Regions from separate parts of the Homo sapiens genome. Here regions 1 and 2 are each linked to region 3. Evidence: fine-mapped expression QTL. A gene starts in region 3. Each other region holds a variant in brackets. All regions are shown on one strand. Distances are from middle to middle.

What was found.
Region 1: its variant is fine-mapped to the expression of ST14 in whole blood (TOPMed, PIP above 0.99).
Region 2: its variant is fine-mapped to the expression of ST14 in whole blood (INTERVAL, PIP above 0.99).

The regions. Positions count from the first base shown.
Region 1 is chr11:130,124,169-130,126,924 of GRCh38, forward strand. It overlaps APLP2 (amyloid beta precursor like protein 2), which reads left to right. Exons shown (of 17, transcript NM_001142276.2): 8 at 2,532-2,662. Among named protein-coding and RNA genes, the nearest start is that of ST14, 34 kb to the right of the region's middle. RefSeq lists an enhancer at 1-57. The variant G/A (reference allele first, on the strand shown) is at 1,643.
Region 2 is chr11:130,072,008-130,074,763 of GRCh38, forward strand. All of the region lies in intron 1 of APLP2 (amyloid beta precursor like protein 2), which reads left to right. Among named protein-coding and RNA genes, the nearest start is that of APLP2, 3.5 kb to the left of the region's middle. The variant A/G (reference allele first, on the strand shown) is at 1,117.
Region 3 is chr11:130,158,403-130,161,158 of GRCh38, forward strand. ST14 (ST14 transmembrane serine protease matriptase) reads left to right here and starts at 1,380. Exons shown (of 19, transcript NM_021978.4): 1 at 1,380-1,658. The coding sequence starts at 1,578. RefSeq lists silencers at 1,259-1,378, 1,459-1,528 and an enhancer at 2,616-2,756.

The DNA.
Region 1 (2,756 bases), 34 kb before region 3:
TCCTGTCTTTGAACTGCCCTGTCACTGACCCCTGTGATGCATGCCAGCTCATGGGGCGCCTCCTCTCGAAAGGAGTGACAGTGAAGTACTTTGGGCAGTCTAGAATATTGAAATATCTTGCATAATGCACTCTAGAGAGAGCTAGCAGCCAAGTGGTAGTGACTCACTCTGTTTCTTCAATATTTTGCAACCGGGTCACACAGCTTTAGGAAGTGAGAGGATTTCAGTTGGTGTGTGCTTTGGTGTGACAGGAAGGTCAGTGGTTCAGTTGAGTTGGGTTTATGCTGGACGTTGGTAGAAAGAGTTTCTACCAAGAGTTTTCCCTTTTCTCCATGGCTACTCCTTTTTCTCGTTAAGACCTTCAGTCTCTCACCTTGCAGCACTAACCTACACATTAGGAAAATCCTCAGGCCAGACAGTTTTTCTTGGTTCCTACTCTGGAATTTGTTGGAGTAATAATTTGCTATGAAGAATTTGGCTATAGCTTCTGACGGTTTTTCATTCACATGCCTTCATGTTCCCTCTTCCTTCCTTCTACCAAAAGATCTTTCAAATCTTAATGTAATATGGCAGTGCCTTGAGTGCTTCCCTTCCAGCTCCAGGAAAGCTGTTTTTATTCGGTAACAGTTGAAAGGTGAAAGAAAAGGAGGCCTTAGGGAACCTTGGTGAATAAACTTTGCGTTTTCAGGAAAGATTTAGAAATAGAAATTATTGTGATACTTACTGCTTTGTAAAACTTGGACTGAAGCCTGAGGAATCCCACTGAGTGTGGAGGTGGTGATCTCTACCCGAAGGGTCAGCTGGGTGGTGCTGTGAGACATGATGGAGTGGCAGGTCTGTAAAACTCCCGTTTGCTGTGGCTTGGATGAGATTTGCCTCGGAGAAGCTTTGTGTTCATGTTCTTGTGGGGCCTCTGCCTGGAGGGCTTTGCAGGTTGAGAAGCATCAAGTTTACTTCCAGTGGGAGCGTTTTTGTTCTTCTTTGAAGGGGCTGAGGCTGGCGGATGTGCCGGCTTCATGAGTGGGTGATTCCACAGGGACCGAGGGTGTCTTCAGAAAAAAGCATTTCGGCCCGCTGTCCTCTCCACTCTGGTCCCAGGGAGGCTGGAAGCAGCCTGTGTTTGCTGTTCCCTTTTTCCAGTCCAGCAATGTGAACCAAAGGCTCCGTCTCCAGCGCTCAGGCCTTTATAGCACAGGCATGTGTCACTGATCCGCATGATGGACTGCAGTGCTTGAAATTCTCCTCCACTGAACTTGCGAGTGTCTTGGGGAATGGCATTTACCAAGTTATCGATTCTAATTTAGTTAATCTGAAAGTGGGATATTGACACCCTTTTAAAACTTATGTAGGGCTCATATTCTTCATGACTTTAGTTGTCGTTTTTAGGTCTGTTAAATGGGCAAATAAAAGATGCTTCCGACAGAAAAAAGTTGAACTGGCTGGCTAATTTGTAGCTGTATTCATCAATTATATGGTTGTTTTAATGTATTAAAATGATACAATTCTAGAAATTAGGTGAATTTGCTTCTGAATTAAAAATCAGTTGAACCTTGGCATTCACTCTCCACTTAGCTCTGAAATTGTGTCATAATCTATCAAGCAAGTCCACACCAGCTTGGGAAATCTTGCATGAATTAGGCTA[G/A]TAAGTGTTACCTTAGGTATGTCTTGAGAGGCTGACTGAGTAAACTTGTCATCTCAGTCCTTTCCCTTATCAGGCTAAATTCCATCGTGCAGAGACTTGCTTGGGCCCCATGAGAGATTATGCCCATCCAGCAGTCGGGGGTGCTCCAATGGGCCTGTGCTCTGGGGAACGCTTGGGAAGCCCTATTGGTCAGTGTCATGGATCAAAAAGCCCTATCTTCATATCGGTGAAAGGTGTCCTTGTCAAATAGAGCAACTCAGTTTTATCCTTGTTGGTTCTGTCACTGATGGTGGGGCTAAGAGTCCTTCACTGATACTGAAAACTCAAAATTATAGCTGGAGTGATGGGGACTTTCTCTACCCAGCGTATATGCAAAGAACATTCACTTGAGCCTGTTTTCTGTTGTAAATTAAGACTCAAAGATAGCCAGAAGAGCAGAGGTACCTGAGTAATAAATTTCTTTAAAAATAAGGAATTGCATAAAAGTGCCTCTACAGGGTCTGATTCCTGCCCTTGTCTCTGTTCAGATGCTCAGTTACGAGCAATAAGGTAGCTATTGTTTAGGTTTCCAGGGTTCGAGCACTGAAGGGAAGGTATAGAAGAAACCACCTCTTTTTCAGCCCTGAGGTCTTAAGTAGATGCCTCACTGGTGCTGAAGCTGCCAATAAATTGCTGTATTAGCGTGGGCTGACATGGTTGATGAATATTGTGTAAGGAAGATTGCCCACTGTAATCTAACCAAGTGAAGTCTTGGCAGATAGCAGCACCCTGCACTTAGAGAATGCCACAAAACAAATTGAGTCCATCCTGCAGGTCCTGAGCTGGGTTTTCTTCCTAGAGCACAGTGCATCTGATCCCAAAGAGAACTCCCTCTGTAATTTTGTTTCAGTTCCTCCAACTCCTCTGCCAACCAATGATGTTGATGTGTATTTCGAGACCTCTGCAGATGATAATGAGCATGCTCGCTTCCAGAAGGCTAAGGAGCAGCTGGAGATTCGGCACCGCAACCGAATGGACAGGGTAAACCTTGACAATTTCTTCATCTTCATGGTACTTGGCTTTGGGTAGCATGGTTCTCATAGCTGAAGAAAAGTAATAGCTTCTCCCTAGATTG
Region 2 (2,756 bases), 86 kb before region 3:
TAGCGAAAGGGATTCTGGCCAAATCCCTGATCAAGTTGCTTGGCACAGAATTATTGATTGGCAAATCTTTAGTGTTGCTTGGTGTTGACTGAATTAATCTCTTACACCTGTTTAAAAAGAAAAAGCTCACCTCTGGACTCAGGGTCACTTCCTCTCTTAAATCCGAGACAAGTTCTCCTGTGTGCATGCTCCCATTTGGGACTGAGACAGTATTGTGCTGAAACCCCGCATACTGTGCAGTGGATGACTAGGCTCCTGAGAACCGGAACTTGAGTTTGTTCTGTCACATTTGAAAGAAAGAAGGCCATTTGATTGCCAGTTTTCTGGAAACTCAAACCCAAATTAAAGGATGTCAACTGAGGCAGAGTAGAGAAGGCTTTGTGTTGGTGTTTCTGACAGGTGGTATGGGAGATGTGTAATTGTACCTTGGAGAGAAACCTTGGTGTGCTTCTGATAGGAATATCGTCTTTTTTTTTTTTTTTTTTTTGATACGGAGTCTCGCTCTGTCCCAGGCTGGAGTGCAATGGTGGGATCTCTGGGCTCACTGCAACTTCCGCCTTCCGAGTTCAAGCGATTCTCCTGCCTCAGACTCCCAAGTAGCTGGGATTGCAGGCGCCTGCCACCACGCCCAGCTAATTTTTGTATTTTTAGTAGAGACAGGGTTTCACCATGTTGGCCAGGCTGGTCTGGAACACCTGATCTCAGGTGATCCACCTGCCTCGGCCTCCCAAAGTGCTGGGATTACAGGCGTGAGCCACAGCGCCCGGCCCGTTATTTTTATCATAACTATGTTTTAAAAATCTTTTGATAAATACGATAAACTTCAGTTTTATCAATTAGTTCCTCCTTTTGTAGAGGGAATTTGTTTTACCATCTAAAGCCAGGCTTTCCCAGGGTGTAGCCACAAGCCACATGTGGTTATTGAGTCTGTAGGGTGACTAGTGTGAATGAGGAGTGAATTTTTCATTTTATTTAATTTTAATTAATTTAAGTTTACATTTAAAATCTGATTCAGTGGTTGGAAAACTTTTAACTGAAATAATTTGGTTATGCGAATTTACTTTTAAACTGTACATTTTATGAAATCTAAATGTAGATCAAGTATTTCCTATGAAA[A/G]TTTAGCTTCTGAATTGAGATGTACTGGAAGTGTAACATACACATCAGATTTTGAAGATTTAATACAGAAGAATTAAAATCTCAATTTTTGTATTGACTAAATTGAAACAATACTTTAGACATGGGCTAAATAAAACATTAAAATTAATTTCACTTGTTTCTTTTCACTCTAATATGGTTCCTAGAAAATTTAATACTATGTATGTGGCTCACATTGTATTTCTGTTAGATGGTGCTGATTTAAAATTTTGCTTAAAGTTGGTCCTGCATATGTTTTTATTAGCAGAATTTTTTAATATGTTCCTATATTTTTCCACATAAAGTCTTGCTGGAAGTTGGCCCAACATGCTCTTAAGTATTTTTGTTAGAACAATTTTGAATGTGTTGATTTTTAAACTTTTTCAATTAAAAATGTTTTACTTAGAAATAACTTTAATCACCAGGCGCGGTGGCTCACGCCTGTAATCCTAGCACTTTGGGAGGCCGAGGTGGGTGGATCACGAGGTCAGGAGTTCGAGACCAGCCTGAGCAACATGGTGAAACTCCGTCTCTACTAAAAATACAAAAATTAGCTGGGCGAGATGGCGTGCGCCTGTAATCCCAGCTACTCAGGAGGCTGAGGCAGGAGAATCTGGGAGGTGGAGGTTACAGTGAGCCGAGATCACACCACTGCACTCCAGCCTGGGCAACAGAGCGAGACTCCATCTCAAGAAAACAAGAATAAAAAAAAGAAATAACTTTAATCTTATAAAAAATGCAAAAATTGTACAATTTTCTTACCCTTTACTCAGATTCACCAATTGTTAACATTTCTTCTAGTCACATTTGCTTTACTACTGCATTTTTTGCCAAATTATTTGAGAGTAAGTTGCATACGTCGTCCCCCATCCCCTTTACCCCTGAGAACTTCAGTATATATTTTCTAAGAGCCAAAGACATTGTCTTACATAGGCTTAGTACAGCCATCAACCTAATGAAATTTAACATTGATACAATACTTGGATCTTATCTGCTGTCGGTTTTCTAGTTAGTTTGTTGACCCAATCATGTTCTTTATAGCATTTGAAAACATGTTTTGTTGTTGTTGTTGTTGTTTTGTTTTTCTTTTTTGAGTTGGAGTCTCACTCTGTCGCCCAGGCTGGAGTGCACTGGCATGATCTCGGCTTACTGCAACCTCCGTTTTTCAGGTTCAAGCGACTCTCCTGCCTCAGCCTCCAGAGTAGCTGGGACTACAGGAGCCCACCACCATGCCTGGCTCATTTTTATATTTTTAGTAGAGACAGGGTTTCACCATATTGGCCAGGCTGGTTCCAAACTTCTGACCTTGTGATCTGCCTGCCTTGGCCTTCCAAAGTGCTGGGATTACAGGCGTGAGCCTCCACACCTGGCCCCTTTCAAGATTGTTTAATTCTGTTTACCCTTACTAAATTTTGAGGCTTTTGGATTTTCTTTCTAAAATAACAGAAGAAGAATTCTATAGGTAGTACATATTCATTGTAAGAAATTTAAAAGTACAGATAACCAATAAGAAGTGAAAAATGACCTAAAATCTTATTCCCCAGGGAAACCTTACTGTAATATTGTATATACCCTTCTGTTAATAGATAGGTCATGTACATAAATTTTATAAAAATGGCACA
Region 3 (2,756 bases):
CCAGGGGATGAAAAGCTTTATGAAAGCTGCCAAGATCAGAACGCCTGGCTGGAGAGAGGGGCTCCAAACAGGAATGCTTGGAGGCACGGTGTTAAGGGAGGACAGGGCAGAGTGTGAAGCTGGGCTAAGGAGGTTGGATTTGATCCGGGAGACACGGAAAGTCATAAAGGAGCTGTGGTTTCAGATTTACCTGACTGCTTTGTGTAGGAGAGATCAGAGGGTGGCAGCCCAGAGGCAGGAGATCTTTCTTAACCAGGCAAAGGGCTCTGAGGACTCGAATAGCGGTCTTCTAATGCGCAGGAATGGAAGGGCTATGCTTGTCAGCAGAGTCTTGATCAGATTTGGAACTAATTGGATATGAGATGTAAGCAGGGTGGAGAATCAAAGATGATTCCAGGATTTGAGCCTGGGAGAATGCTGCCATTAGAATTAGAGAAAACAGTGGAAAATGGGCAAGTCAGGGAAGGAAGATGGGGCTTGTTGATCTCAAAGCAGGGATTTTTATTTTGTTCACTCCTGTTTCCCTGTACCCAGGACAGTGCTTAGCGCCTAGTGTGTGCTTGGTAATGTTCATTGGCTACAGAATACAGTAGAACATAAATGGAGACGTCCCCAGGCGACCGCTAAGGCAGAACTGGCACTCCTTGGTGGTGTCTGTGCTGGGAGGGAGGTCTTCCTGTCTGAAGTCGTAAGATGAGACGTGCTGCCAAGAGAAAAAGCTTAGAGAAGAAAGGGATGAAACTGAAGGGAGAACTTTGGGAATCATGACATTTAGGACTAGAAAGGAGGACCGGAATCCAGGGAAAGGGGGCATTTGAGGAAGCATCAGATGCTGCAAGTGGGCGAGGGGCGTTGGGATGGCTCAGAGGGCATCTGGTGGCACAGCTCATGTCACTGGGCCTCCCCAGGGTAGCCGGGCGCAGGCCAGCAAGCGCCTCCCGCCTGGAGAACAGGAGGCTGCGTAGCCGACGGGGAGCCTGGGCCAGGGGCGGTTCTGGTTTCTGTTTGGTTTTGGGGGGTTCATAAATGCGATTTAGTCCTGTAGCAAAGTGAGCAAGGTGAAGGGGAGAGACCGGAGGCGCATGAGGGAGGAGGGAAAAGATGGTTGGCATCAAGGAGGTGGATAAAGGGCTGCCCTCCCGGGGCAGGGCCCCTGGAGGGCCGGAGGGGTGGTGAACGCCGTCGTGGTGATGGTGAGGGCCTTAGCGACCACCACCCGAGTGAGGCCCCCTCACCTTCAGGCCCAGAGCCGAGGGGAGGAGCCTCCCCCAGGGCCGGCGGGGGCGGGCAGGTGAGCCGGGCAGGTGCGCAGGCGAGCGCGGCGGGCTGGGCGGGCCGAGGCCACACCCTGAAACTACCTGCGTGGGCCGGGCCGGAGTGTGAGAGCGGAGCTGCAGCCGGAGAAAGAGGAAGAGGGAGAGAGAGCGCGCCAGGGCGAGGGCACCGCCGCCGGTCGGGCGCGCTGGGCCTGCCCGGAATCCCGCCGCCTGCGCCCCGCGCCCCGCGCCCTGCGGGCCATGGGAGCCGGCCGCCGGCAGGGACGACGCCTGTGAGACCCGCGAGCGGCCTCGGGGACCATGGGGAGCGATCGGGCCCGCAAGGGCGGAGGGGGCCCGAAGGACTTCGGCGCGGGACTCAAGTACAACTCCCGGCACGAGGTGAGCGCGGGCCGGGGACCCGGGGCGCTGGGAAGCTCCTGCCCGCCCGACCCTGCAGCGCGGCGCTGGGCTCGGCCGGCTCCCCTGGCGTGTCCGTCGGTGGCCGAGCTCTGGGCGCACAGGTGGAATTTCCTGTTCAGCGGGTGCCGGGCCGCGGGCGGGCGGGGCTGGCCGGACCTTTGGTACCGGACCGGCTGCGCCCCGCCAGGGGGAGGCGGGAAGCCCCTGGGCCTTCCTGCGCCCTCGGTCCTTTCTTTCCCTGAGTTGAAAAAAGGGGCTCCGTCTCGGCCCCTCCATGACTCTCGCGCTGTTAGTGAACATCTGGAAGAAACCAGGGGCTTGGAGTGGGGTTATTTGGGAGGAAGTGAAATTTCAGGAGGGTTTGGAGTCTCAGCCATCCTTGGCCTCTGCAGAAAGTTTCTTTCGTCTCTCTCCTTCCCCGTCAAAAGGCGCTTTGGGACCTCGCAGAGGACAACTGGGAGGCCAGGGCTTTGGCTGCCATACGGGCTGGAGCTAAGAACTCCAGAGTTGGGCTTGCCTGGGCTTCTCGAGAGGGGATGGAGCCCTTTGGGAAGGCGGCTGTATGGGAAGGGATGTGGGAACACACATGTCTTGAGCCTTTTGCGAAGTACCGAAACAGGAAGCTCTTCTTTGGCAGAAAGAACAATGAAAGACCTATTGAAAGATCTCAAAAAGATTACATGTTCCTGTATGGAGTTGGGGATGGGTCGCTAGTCACTTCATTGACGGACCCACCTAGGTGGTAGTGCCCGGGCGGGACCAGCAGCCAGGTCTCTACCCTCTCTGTCCAAGGCAGACCCCCAGGTTTCCTGGAAGGCCAGGGCATACCAGGTCAGGGCGGCGCTGAGAGGCAGGGGCTGTGTGGCAGAGAGTTTTGCTCCTCTGCAAATGATGGCCTCCCTGCCCTGCCAACCCTCACTTTCTCCCCTCCTTCCGGGTGCCCCTGGGCTCCATAGTCTCCGCCGTTGCTCCCTAAGTCAGGCCTGATTTTGGTGCTGTCTCAGATCAATTCCTTTTGTCCAAGCAGCATCCCGACCTAGGGAGCTTGCAGAAAATCAGACGCTGGGGCTTTGGAGG